2 separate regions of the Homo sapiens genome follow, and region 1 is linked to region 2. The links come from fine-mapping of genetic effects on gene expression. Tissue or cell type: fibroblasts. Region 2 holds a variant in brackets; the other region holds the start of a gene. All regions are shown on one strand. Distances are from middle to middle.

Region 1 (5,000 bases), 190 kb before region 2:
TACCCATAGGCTTACTAGCTTTGTAATCTGGAACAAATTATTTTACACCTAAATGACTGTTAGACTAGATTTCTTTAAGGTCTCTTGGAGCTTTAAAGTATTATGATTCCTTTGAGAACATTTCAAAATGTGTGTGTGTGAGTTACAAACTTAAGCTGCCTACATTACAAACTGAAGGTCTTGCTTTAATAATTTCAACTAACTGATAAAATCAAAGGCTTCTTTATGTGATTCTTCTGCCCTACTAAACATAGGTGTGGATAGTATTAAATGAATCTGTAAATATGAGTGGGGATCAAACACATCACCTGACTAACATTTTTACAAAGCAGTTCCCAAAACACTGAAAAGTTCATTGCAACAAAACCAATTTACGATTGATGAAGAGGTATCTCAATTGTAACCTTTACATGCATGACATTTCAATCAGAATATTGAGTTAGCAGTTTCAGACTTTGACTTTTCAGACATACACTCATACAAAAATACATTTCATATCATTATTGTTTAATATATTATTTTTGTTTAAAATTGATAGTTGTCCTATAATTTTATGTCTAGCTGAATTCCCAAAGTAGAAGTACTAATGTGCAGAGAATTCATGAAAGGTTTTAAAATGTCTTACAAATGTAAGATTATTTGAAGCTGTATCAGCTTGTAATTTAAGGCCTGCAGCTGCTGGTATGATAGAAGTATCAAATTTCAAAAGAAATTATGGTAGAGTATAAATAAGCAGAATGAAGAGAAAAGTCTCCTGAGAAGAAAATAAAATGAGAATGAAGCATATGCATTGTTATTGCATTGCTCCTTTTTTTCTTCATTTTTTATTTCAGGTTCGAGGGGTACATGTGCAGGTTTGTTACACAGATAAATTGCATATCACCAGGATTTGATGTACAAATAATTTCATCGCCCAGGTAGTAAGCCCAGTACCCGATAGACAGTTTTCCGAACCCCACCTTTCTCCCTCCCTCCTTCCTCAAGCAGGCCCCAGTATCTGATTGTTCCCATCTCTGTGTGCATGTATACTAAGGCACTGCTTCTTATATTCAAGGTTTAGTACTAAAATGCAAATATGAAGTATATAATTTAGTAAGTTTTAATCCTGCTGCAAACCAGGTCACATAAAAATAATGCAAAATAAAATATTAAAATTATTCAGAAGTTCGATATTTATTCTGTTGTCTTTACACCTTATAAAATGGAATGACCTAATTACTCTTAAATAAACATAAAGACAATTTAAGGTCACATTTGTTACATTCACATAATTTGTTAAACACAATAGAAATGTTAGTTTACTAGAAAAGAACTGTCATAATTTTAACATGCAGAGTTTGTTTACCTTCTATTATGGTGATCTTTGTTTAAGATTTTCTCCTCAGATGTTAAAAGTTTTTCACTTAAAGAGGCTTAGGGAAAGTGATTTTTAAAGAGTCACTGTTACATGGTAATATGCCGTTCATTTGGATGAGACTAGTATATAGGTAATAGTCACAAGTTCTAACTTGCATGTTAATTTGAAGAGATTTTTCGTAAAATTTTATCAACATTAGTTTCTAATGGAAACCAGTCTTAGAAGTTTTCTGCTGTTTGTTTGAGGTAAAGTTTTTTTAAGAAAGTTATAATTACATTAAACTATCATGCTTTAGGGTTTAAATGTTGGAAAGTTGGTTTTGTAAGAAGAAGAGTTTGGTTTCTTGTTTGTTTGTTTGTTTTGGTTTGTTTTTGGCATGCGAAGAGCTGTGTCCTGGAATTGGTGCCCAAAAAATTTTAAGTGTGGTATGAACTGTTTATGTCACTGAGTAAAATTAGACACGTCTGTTGCTAATGTGAGGGGATGAAACATGAGACAGGGCGAAACTCGTGAGAGCCCTTTCTCCAGGGACAGTTGCTGAAGCTTCATCCTTTGCTCTCATTCTGTAAGTCATAGAAAAGTTTGAAACATTCTGTCTGTGGTAGAGCTCGGGCCAGCTGTAGTTCATTCGCCAGTGTGCTTTTCTTAATATCTAAGGTAAGTGCTCAGTTTTAACTTAGATTTTATATCAGTACAAAGTACTACCTAAAAACCAAACGCTTAAGAGGTTTCTTAATATTCTTTCTTCTTTGGTGGCATAATAATAAATTTAAAATAATGTTGAATAAATTGGTGTATCACAACATAATGACATATCAAGTATCAATGAAATTCTCATTTCAACTAAGTTATTCTGACTACAAATATGCTACATATTTTTAGCATAATCCTATATTTCTAACATTTTTAATTTGTAGAATGCCAAAGGTAGCATTTCTGTATTATTGGGCATTGAATTGGATCCTGTAGTTAATTTAAACAAAGTATTATCTTTAAGATCACCTACTTCTAATTCTGCTCTTAAACTTTAGTGGTAGAATTACATTTGCTTTAGATTTTCTTGATAGTTTTGTTATAGACACTAAGAAATAAACTAAAATGAATGACAACAAAAGTCCAGTGGTTTTATAAGTTGGAAATAAACAAAACAAGAGCAAAATAGCAACCTGACTCCTTCACTATTTTTGGAGTGAAAAGGGAAGAATGTTTCTTTCCCTAAATCTGGAAAATATAAAATACTGCTCAAAATATGTATGAAAAAATAAACATAAGTGGGGTAAAAGTACACATGTGCTAATGCTTCAGCTTACTGAAGTTATGAGTTCTTTCTTTGCGTTTTCTAAATTAATACATGACAACTAGCAAACACAATTTTTTTAAAGGAAGGATTAGAAAAAAATAATACGGAAAAATATAACTCAGCTGACTGAAAGATTTGCCAGCAGACCAGTACAAAAACGAACTACGGAATACACCGTTTGTTTTTTGCTTATTTTCTTGCAAACATTTTGTAGGTACAAAAAGGCACCTTTGTGGAATTTAAAAAGTAATGCTACAAGTTGGGGTTCGTTTTATAGGTTCTAGGATTCATTTCAGATTGTCTTTCAAAGACAAATGAAAAGTAGCATTTCAATGTAGTTAGATATAGCATTCCAAAGACTAACAAATTCAGGTGTCCAAAAGATATCAGCTAAGCTTGCAGTTAAAATGCGGAAAATGAAATTGTTCCATATTGTCCTTTAAAAAATGTACTTGCTAGTCATTAAACTAAGTTGTTATTAAATTGCATTAAAAATTAAATGATAGTTGTAAATTATAGTGGGTTCCCAATGTGTTCAGTTTTGCATAACTTATAGGGCCTGAGGATCTCCCTCCACTCCCTAATCTGTGGCTCATCACAGCGCTTGTGTCTTCTCAGCTTGAGGCACCAGGGCTGTGGTTTCCCAGTGGGAGGGGAGAAACTACAGCGTCCTGAGGATGACTCTGCTACTCTCCTGCTCCTTCAGAACCCACCTTGACCTTCATGACACCTTCCTGTCTCTCCCTCCCTCCCTCCCCTTCTCTCAGCCTCTATAGCACCTGTCTGGCTTTATTCTTCTCCAGACCTACTGCAGGGCCAGATAGTTCTACGACGTTCTCATGAGGATTGCAGGATCCATCACTTGCTACTTTGGCCATTTTGGATTCCAGCTTCATTTTTAATTTTATATGTTATGCTGTAGATAGTTTTATGGGAACACTGGTACAGGAGTATTTAGTAATTTGTGAATGGTAAAGGTCTCAAGACTTTTCTCAGAACCTGTGAAAATCTCACTGCCTGCTCGACTTCAGTATGACTGGTGGGTAGGACCACTGAGGAATGGGGACAGGAGGGCTTGCTGTGCCCAAAGGCGTTTGTGCTTCATCCTAAGCACCAGTGAGACCTTTGAACCTCTAGAAAAGGAGAGCAGCCCAGTCACATGGGTGCTTTGGAAGGATCACTGCAGTTGACATGGAGAATGGATTAAGGGCAGTGGAGGCGGCAGTGAAGAGTACCTTAAAACCTAGCTTCACCTTCGTGACTTCTTTAACTCTGTTTTTAAAATGCTCAATTAATTTTACTTGAGAAACATCTCTGGAAAGTCTAACATCAATGAAGAGGCTATGATTAAAAGTTTAGGCTATGGAGCCAGACTGCCATTTGACCTTGTGTGAATTACTTAATTTCTATGTCTCAGTTTCTTCATTTGTAAGGTGAGAGGAGTTGCATTGTAGCAGCTACCATTTTAACAAGTATCAAATTTAGTCTATATAAGGCAATTAGAAAGTTTCTGACTTCTTAGTAAATAGTAGCTTCCATCGGCATCACCCATCAATGCACCCTCTTATCCTGACCCCACACTGCGGGGAAGTCAGGAAGACCTCGGGAAAATGACGGTAACTGGTCAGGAACTTGAACCTGCTTCTCACAGTCCCCTAAGAAGGCGTACCAGAAAGGAGCCCTAAGCAGGCAGGAGACTCCAGGCTGAGGCTATTTCTGCTGTTTCTGTGGAGAACGTTCTCTGCACGCAGCCATGGCTGCTCAGAAGGGGTGTGTGCATTCCAGGATACAAATAGCCCTCCTGGCATTCCTGGTGGCTGCCTGCCTATCCCTAGTGGTAAGGTCTATGAAGGAAAGAAAGGCAAGTGACTGTTTACCTTTCCCATGAAAATCTTCCTTTTCTTCAACATTTTTGATTGTAACGAAAACTTTATATAAAATATTCTCCCTTTATTTTTATTTTTTTTTGAGACAGAGTCTCGCTCTATCGCCCAGGCTGGAGTGCAGTGGCATGATCTCGGCTCACTGCAAACTCACCTCCCGGGTTCAAGTGATTCTTCTGCCTCAGCCTCCCTAGTAGCTGGGATTACAGGCATATGCCACCATGCCCAGCTAATTTTTGTATTTTTAGTAGAGACGGAGTTTCACCATGTTAGTCAGGATGGTCTCGATCTGCTGACCTCGTGATCCACCCGCCTCGGCCTCCCAAAGTGCTGGGATTACAGGCATGAGCCACCATGCCCAGCCTACATAAAATACTCTAAAATGTTAATCTTGGTGAAACAATATAAGTGTGTTGTCTCCATACTGGAATGCATTTGAATGTTTGTATTTTGGCAACAT
Region 2 (6,448 bases):
GAAAATACACAAAAGCATGGCCTTTCACAACATCTTTCCAAATGCAGGAAAGTGTTACTATACATAAATGGTGTCCCTTTATCCTACTGATAATATAAAATACAAGTTGTTTGAATAGAATAAGAGGCTTTGGTCATTACATTGCTTGTCATTTTGAGTTTTCAGATTTTATTCTTTGTTCTCTAAAAATACCAACTGGTGGAGACACCTTCCCACCAAAAGCAGAGAAAAACATCTGAAGAAGTGGACATAAACATGCCAAAAAGTACAAATGATAGACTGTTCATTAAACAAAGCATTATTAATCATTAAAAACTGCCTGTTAGTGCATACAATAAAATTTGTTCCTAATTATTGATTCTTACCCTGATATGGCGCCATATCTTTTGACCAAAGAGTCTCTGTTCCGTATTGAGTTTCATCATATAAAAATTTAACTTCTGTCGCCCCAGCATCTTCTGCATTCTGAATTAATTCCTAACCAAAAAATATACCAAAAAATAGTAATTAATAACACAGTAATCTACTGCTCATCTTTGTATTTATCTATAATATTTAAGAAGTTAATATACTTAAATAAAGGAAACCCACTATTTGCAACATTACCTTTAAGATCTGGTGAGGCTACTACTGAAAGTAATTGTTACATAGATGTGACAGTATGGTTGAAAAGTCCTTCTCCAATTATTTGCACTTAAATTTTGTCTTTTAATTTGCTATCACTTAGCAAATTAATCCTGGGCCCTATTTATAACTGTCTCATATTTACAATCTACCCAAAGCTTTTGTTCAAAGGAAATTATTCTATTTCCAAAAGCTGCACATATCGTCCTGTGTGGCAGGTAACTTAAGCTTGAGTGATTGCCAAAAATAGACCTTTTTTATCCTTTGCTTACTAAACTTACCTTTCCACAGAAAAACAATAAAACCAAATAGTAGCAATCTATATATACCCTTCAATTGGCTGCTTTCTTGAGAGCCTGAGATATAAAAATGTCTTTGTCCTGCACTAAACTGAAAGCTTCCAGATGGTCAGGACTGACTCATTCCTTTCATCAAGAAGAAAGCACTACCATTTGTTTGGTGAATGGTGGGTGAGTGGAAGGGTGACCAGCTCCCCGTAATGTAGAAAGGAAAGGGCAAACTGCAAGATTTGCCTCAACAAAATTTCCAATCCTAACAACCCCAATCACTTCTGCACACCTACTAAAATCACGCTGGGCTCCGTTCAGTTTGAAGGGAGCTCCAGAATCTGAATCAAGAATCAGCTCCTAGATCCAACCCCATGATCATCAAAAGAGCTTTTTTACTTCCCCAGAGCCTTGGGATCACTAAATTGGAGGTACAGATGGGCAAAAATTGAAGAGCACTTTAACTGATACTACAACAATGTCAACAGTGATGCCTACATCAGAGTAGAGAGGTGGTACGATGACTACATGAAACAAAATAACTACAAGGAGACTGAGGGAGCAGAAGTGAAAAGTCAGTTCTGAGATTGTGCTCAGTTCACCCAGTGCATCCCAAAGGGCTGGAGTGTGGTACCCACCAGCTGTTCCACCCCAAACATGAACAGCTAAGTCGTGCCTCCTGCAGCCTCATTATCAGCTAGTGATTCTTCCTTGTTACGTAACTAACTATTTCTCATGGGATTTTAATTTTTTAGGCCTCATTCAATCCCAGAGAATCCCTAAAAATTAACAATCTTATTTACATTAGGATATTATAATAATATGAAGGATGGAAATAAGAATTAAATAGGTAGTGAAAAACAATGTTAACTTACAAAATGATAGCACTTTAGATGTTCGACCTTGTTTTCATTCAGGTATCTATTTATTATTTATGTGTACTTTAGGGAGCAGAGAGGCAGAAAACTAAAGATAAAATCTAAGTCCCAGGTTCCACTCATTCTCAAGTTGAATAAAAAATAGGATAGGAAGCTTTTCCCCTAAATTGCAATCCTGAGAGATTGTTTGTAAACTAACTCTGGGAAACAGCAACAATACATTTTGTATTTGGTCTTGGGCAAGCCACTAAGATCTCTGGACCTGTTTCAGCAAACACAAATACCATAGAAGGTGGTGGTGTAGGTCTTGGTGATTTCTAAGACTCCTATTAAATCTAAAACAGTCTAATTCTACCACAACATCCAAGGAACAAAGATTACATTGAACTGGCTACAATACAAATATATCTATAAGCAAAGCAGAAGGCGCGTAGCCCTCAGCTGTTTGCCATAGACCTTTCTCATTTCTCAGCAAGGATCCCACTCGCTCACTTCTAAACAGATGACAACCTACTCCTGTTACCACTATACCTTTATTTTAAATGTATTCTATTCACTTCTTTCTACCCCAAAACCACCTCGTAGCAATACTCTTTCCATCCTCACTTTCCTAATAAGTCAATACAAAAACTGTTTTTGAATTCGCTTTCTGTGAACCACTGGTGCCTATGCTGAAAGATGGACTGCTCCAACAGCCCAGTCTCACCATGATCACTAAAGACACAACAGTCCTCAGTGAGTGCCTACCTGAGCATGACTCTCTTAAATTAAAGAGACCTAGTCCTGATTCCCTCACAGTTTACAATCTAAACTAGAAAATATAACCAGGGCCAAGATACTGAAGGTAATAAACACTAAACAAGCTAATGGGAAGGAAAATGCATAACAACTGGTCTACTTTGACAATTAAGGAAGTTTCTTATTAAACACAAAATCTAATTTTTGCAGTATCTCCCATTATTGCTTTCTTTGATGATTATTGGTTTTTCTTTTTTTGTTGTTTTATTGTTTGTTTGTTTTTTGAGACGGAGTGTGGCTCCTGCTGCCCAGGCTGGAGTGCAGTGGCGCAATCTCGGCTCACTGCAATCTCTGCCTCCGGGTTCAAGCGATTCTCCTGCCTCAGCCTCCTGAGTAGCTAGGATTACAGGCAGCCACCACCATGCCTGGCTAATTTTTGTACTTTTAATAGAGAC[G/A]GGGTTTCGCCAAGTTGGCCAGGCTGGTCTCGAACTCCTGACTTGAGGTGATCCACCCGCCTCAGCCTCCCAAAGTGCTGGGATTACAGGCATGAGCCACTGCGCCCAGCCTGTTTTTTAAAGAGTATAATCAAACTAAAAAAACATATTACAAAAAGAAATAAGTAAATAAAATAATTATCCTATTAAATAAACCCTCCCAAAATAGCAAACCTCTAAAATCAGGAGTCCAATGGGCATGCATTCAAGCCTCTAATCGTAGAATGTATTTGGCTGGCCGGTTGGCTGGCTGGCTGGTTGGTTGGTTGGTTGGTTGGTTGGTTGACGTGTAAAGCCCTGCACAATGATCTACAGAGAACATTCCCGGAGCGACACTGCTGATTACAGCACCCAGTAGCTTAGCGCATTTCTTTGCCCCAGAAAACCTCACATATTTATATCAATTCCATTCTCAAATGGAGCTATACACTGCTATACACTGCAGCCACAGAGGTATAATACAGCTATTTGAATCTAGACAACATTTTAAAAATTTAAACACTAATAGGACTTTCAAGTAAATTTACTTCATCTCATTTTTATCAAAGTAAATAACACATGAACACGACATGTGCCCCACCTTAAGAATCTGTCCTCCTTCTGGATATCTTCTCAAAATGTCCTTGAGAAAATCAACAAGTGGTGGCGTTGTCTGACCAAATCGACCTAAAATACGGAGCACATTTTAAGTGAGTTAGAAAAAAAATCCCATGAATTGTCACCAATGTGTGACTTGAATCTGAGACATCATATAACTATACAAGTTATGGTTGCATATATCTCACTGCAGCACCCTGGTACAGAAATCTACCTGACGAAGCAATTCAGCAGAAAGTAAAGCAGATTCAATTGTATCAAATCTCAAGTTGTTTTGTTTTGTTTTGTTTTGTTTTTTGAGACAGAGTCTCGCTCTGTCGCCCAAGCTGAAGTGCAGTCGTGTGATCTCCCCTCACTGCAAGCTCCACCTCCTGGGTTCATGCCATTCTCCTGCCTCAGCCTCCCGAATAGCTGGGACTACAGGTGCCCACCACCATGCCCAGCTAATTTTTTTGTATTTTTAGTAGAGATGGGGTTTCACCATGTTAGCCAGGATGGTCTTGATCTCCTGACCTCGTGATCCGCCCACCTTGGCCTCCCAAAGTGCTGGGATTCCAGGCGTGAGCCACCATGCCTGGCCTCAAGATTTTTAACTGAACTACAAATAAAGTCTCAAAAAATGTTCAAAAATATAATAACTATTAATTCAAAAACAAGAAGCATGGTGCAGTGGGGAGGAGTGTTGATATTTTCCAAAGCAAATAAAATAAATGATGTTATTTTGTGGCTGCTTTGCCATTAAATAACAAGCCAGAGACAGAGGTGCCTATTATCACATTCTTAATATTCTCAAATTCAACCAGTGTTCTGATTGTTCTGAAATTCAGCAGTCACTGTCTCAATGGCTGTCCACTTCAAGTACCTTCAAGCCTTGCCTAAACTAGATATTCTTAGACCAACTGACCAGGTCACCTTCAGACAAGTGACAGGGCTGTAGGAAGAACAAGAAAATGGGAAGTAATGCCTCAAATACACAGCATTTCAAAAATCTGTTTATCAGTATAAAGAAACCTCTGCTTAAAAAAGCAAAATTGTCACTATAAATTTATTTGCGTCATTTTGGTACAACCACATACTGAGACCAAGCTCAAACAAGACTCTGTTTCCACAGACTTCTATCCCACCCATTCTTTTTTTTTTTTTTCAGACGGACTCTCCTTCTATTGCTCAGGCTGGAGTGCAGTGGCGCAATCTCAGCTCACTGCAAGCTCCTTCTCCCAGGTTCACGCCATTCCCCTGCCTCAGCCTCCTGAGTAGCTGGGACTACAGGTGCCCGCCACCATACCCAGCTAATTTTTTGTATTTTTTAGTAGAGATGGGGTTTTACCGTGTTAGCCAGGATGGTCTGGATCTCCTGAGCTTGTGATCCGCCCTCCACAGCCTCCCAAAGTGCTGAGATTACAGGCGTGAGCCACCATGCCCAGCCTATCCCACTCACACTTCTTTTTTTTTTTTTTTGAGACGGAGTCTTGCACTGTCTCCTGGGCTGGAGTGCAATGGAGCGATCTCAGCTCACTGCAACCTCTGCCTTCCAGGTTCAAGCGATTCTTCTGCCTCAGCTTCCCAAGTGGCTGGGAGTACAGGTGCGTGCCACTACACCTGGCTAATTTTTTCTATTTTTAGTAGAGACAGGGTTTCACTGTGTTAGCCAGGATGGTCTTGATCTCCTGACCTCGTGATTCGCCTGCCTTGGCCTCCCAAAGTGCTGGGATTACAAGTGTGGGCCACCACACCCGGCCCCCACTCATTCTTATAACTAGCTCCATCCACGCTTGTCTTCCTCTGGCCCTGATGTCCCCTCACTCTATCCCAATGGGATATGATTTCATTTCATTTTTAAAACATAATCTTTAAAACAGCTTTATTGAGTACAACTCAAATACAAAGCACTGCAGATATTTATTTTGCAACTTGATGCATTTGGAGATAAGTACGTACCATGAAACCATCAAACTATCATTGTCAGTGCCATAAACTTATCCATCATCTCCAAAAGTTTCCTCCCATCTCTTCTGTTGTGCTTTATTAAACTTTTATGGTAAGAGTAATTAATATCAGATCTACCCTACCCACTTAGTAAGTTTTTAAGAATACAACACAGTATTGTTATTCATGGGCCCTGTACTGTATAGAAGATCTCCAGATCTTCTTTATTCATATAGCAAACTTTGTACCTTTGGCCAATGACACCCCATTTCTCCCTGCCCCCACCCTCTGGCAACCACCATTCTACTCCCTGCTTCTTTGTTAAAACTCAATCTCGGCTGGGAGCGGTGGCTCACGCCTGTAATCCGAACACTTTGGGAGGCCAAAGACGGTGGATCACTTGAGGTCAGGAGTTCAAGACCAGCCTGGCCAACATGGTAAAACCCTGTCTATACTAAAAATGTAAAAATTAGCTGGGCGTGATGGCAGGCACCTGTTTTCCCAGCTACTTGGGAGGCTGAGGCACGAGAATCACTTGAACAGAGGCTGAGACACGAGAATCACTTGAACCCAGGAGGCAGAGGTTGTGGTGAGCTGAGATTGTGCCACTGCACTCCAGCCTGGGCGATAGGGCGAGACTCAGTTTCAAAAACCAACCAAACAAACAAACAAAAAAACTCAATCTTTGTGCAACCCAACATGGTATATACTTCTGGTAAAGTCAATATTATACCTCCCCCTTTTAAGCCTTTTGATTGAAGGTTTACAAAAAGATGACAATTTTTGGAAGTCAGATCTCCAATCTTGATCCAGTCAGATAACTGAAAAAAAGCAAAAGAAAATGTATGAAAAGCAATACAGTCTCTAATACTGTAAATTCAAGACATTATCTCAAATTTTTTCA

Evidence for each region. PIP is the estimated chance that this variant, and not a neighbour inherited with it, causes the effect. A credible set is the group of variants that fine-mapping cannot tell apart.
Region 1: it holds the start of SGCG, and the variant in region 2 is the best candidate, but not a certain one, in a credible set for the expression of SGCG in fibroblasts (GTEx, PIP 0.71).

Annotation. Positions count from the first base shown.
Region 1 is chr13:23,179,062-23,184,061 of GRCh38, forward strand. SGCG (sarcoglycan gamma) reads left to right here and starts at 1,918. Exons shown (of 8, transcript NM_000231.3): 1 at 1,918-2,014.
Region 2 is chr13:23,364,801-23,371,248 of GRCh38, forward strand. It overlaps SACS (sacsin molecular chaperone), which reads right to left. Exons shown (of 10, transcript NM_014363.6): 4 at 6,278-6,365; 5 at 3,602-3,687; 6 at 366-477. Among named protein-coding and RNA genes, the nearest start is that of SACS-AS1, 51 kb to the right of the region's middle. The variant G/A (reference allele first, on the strand shown) is at 2,983.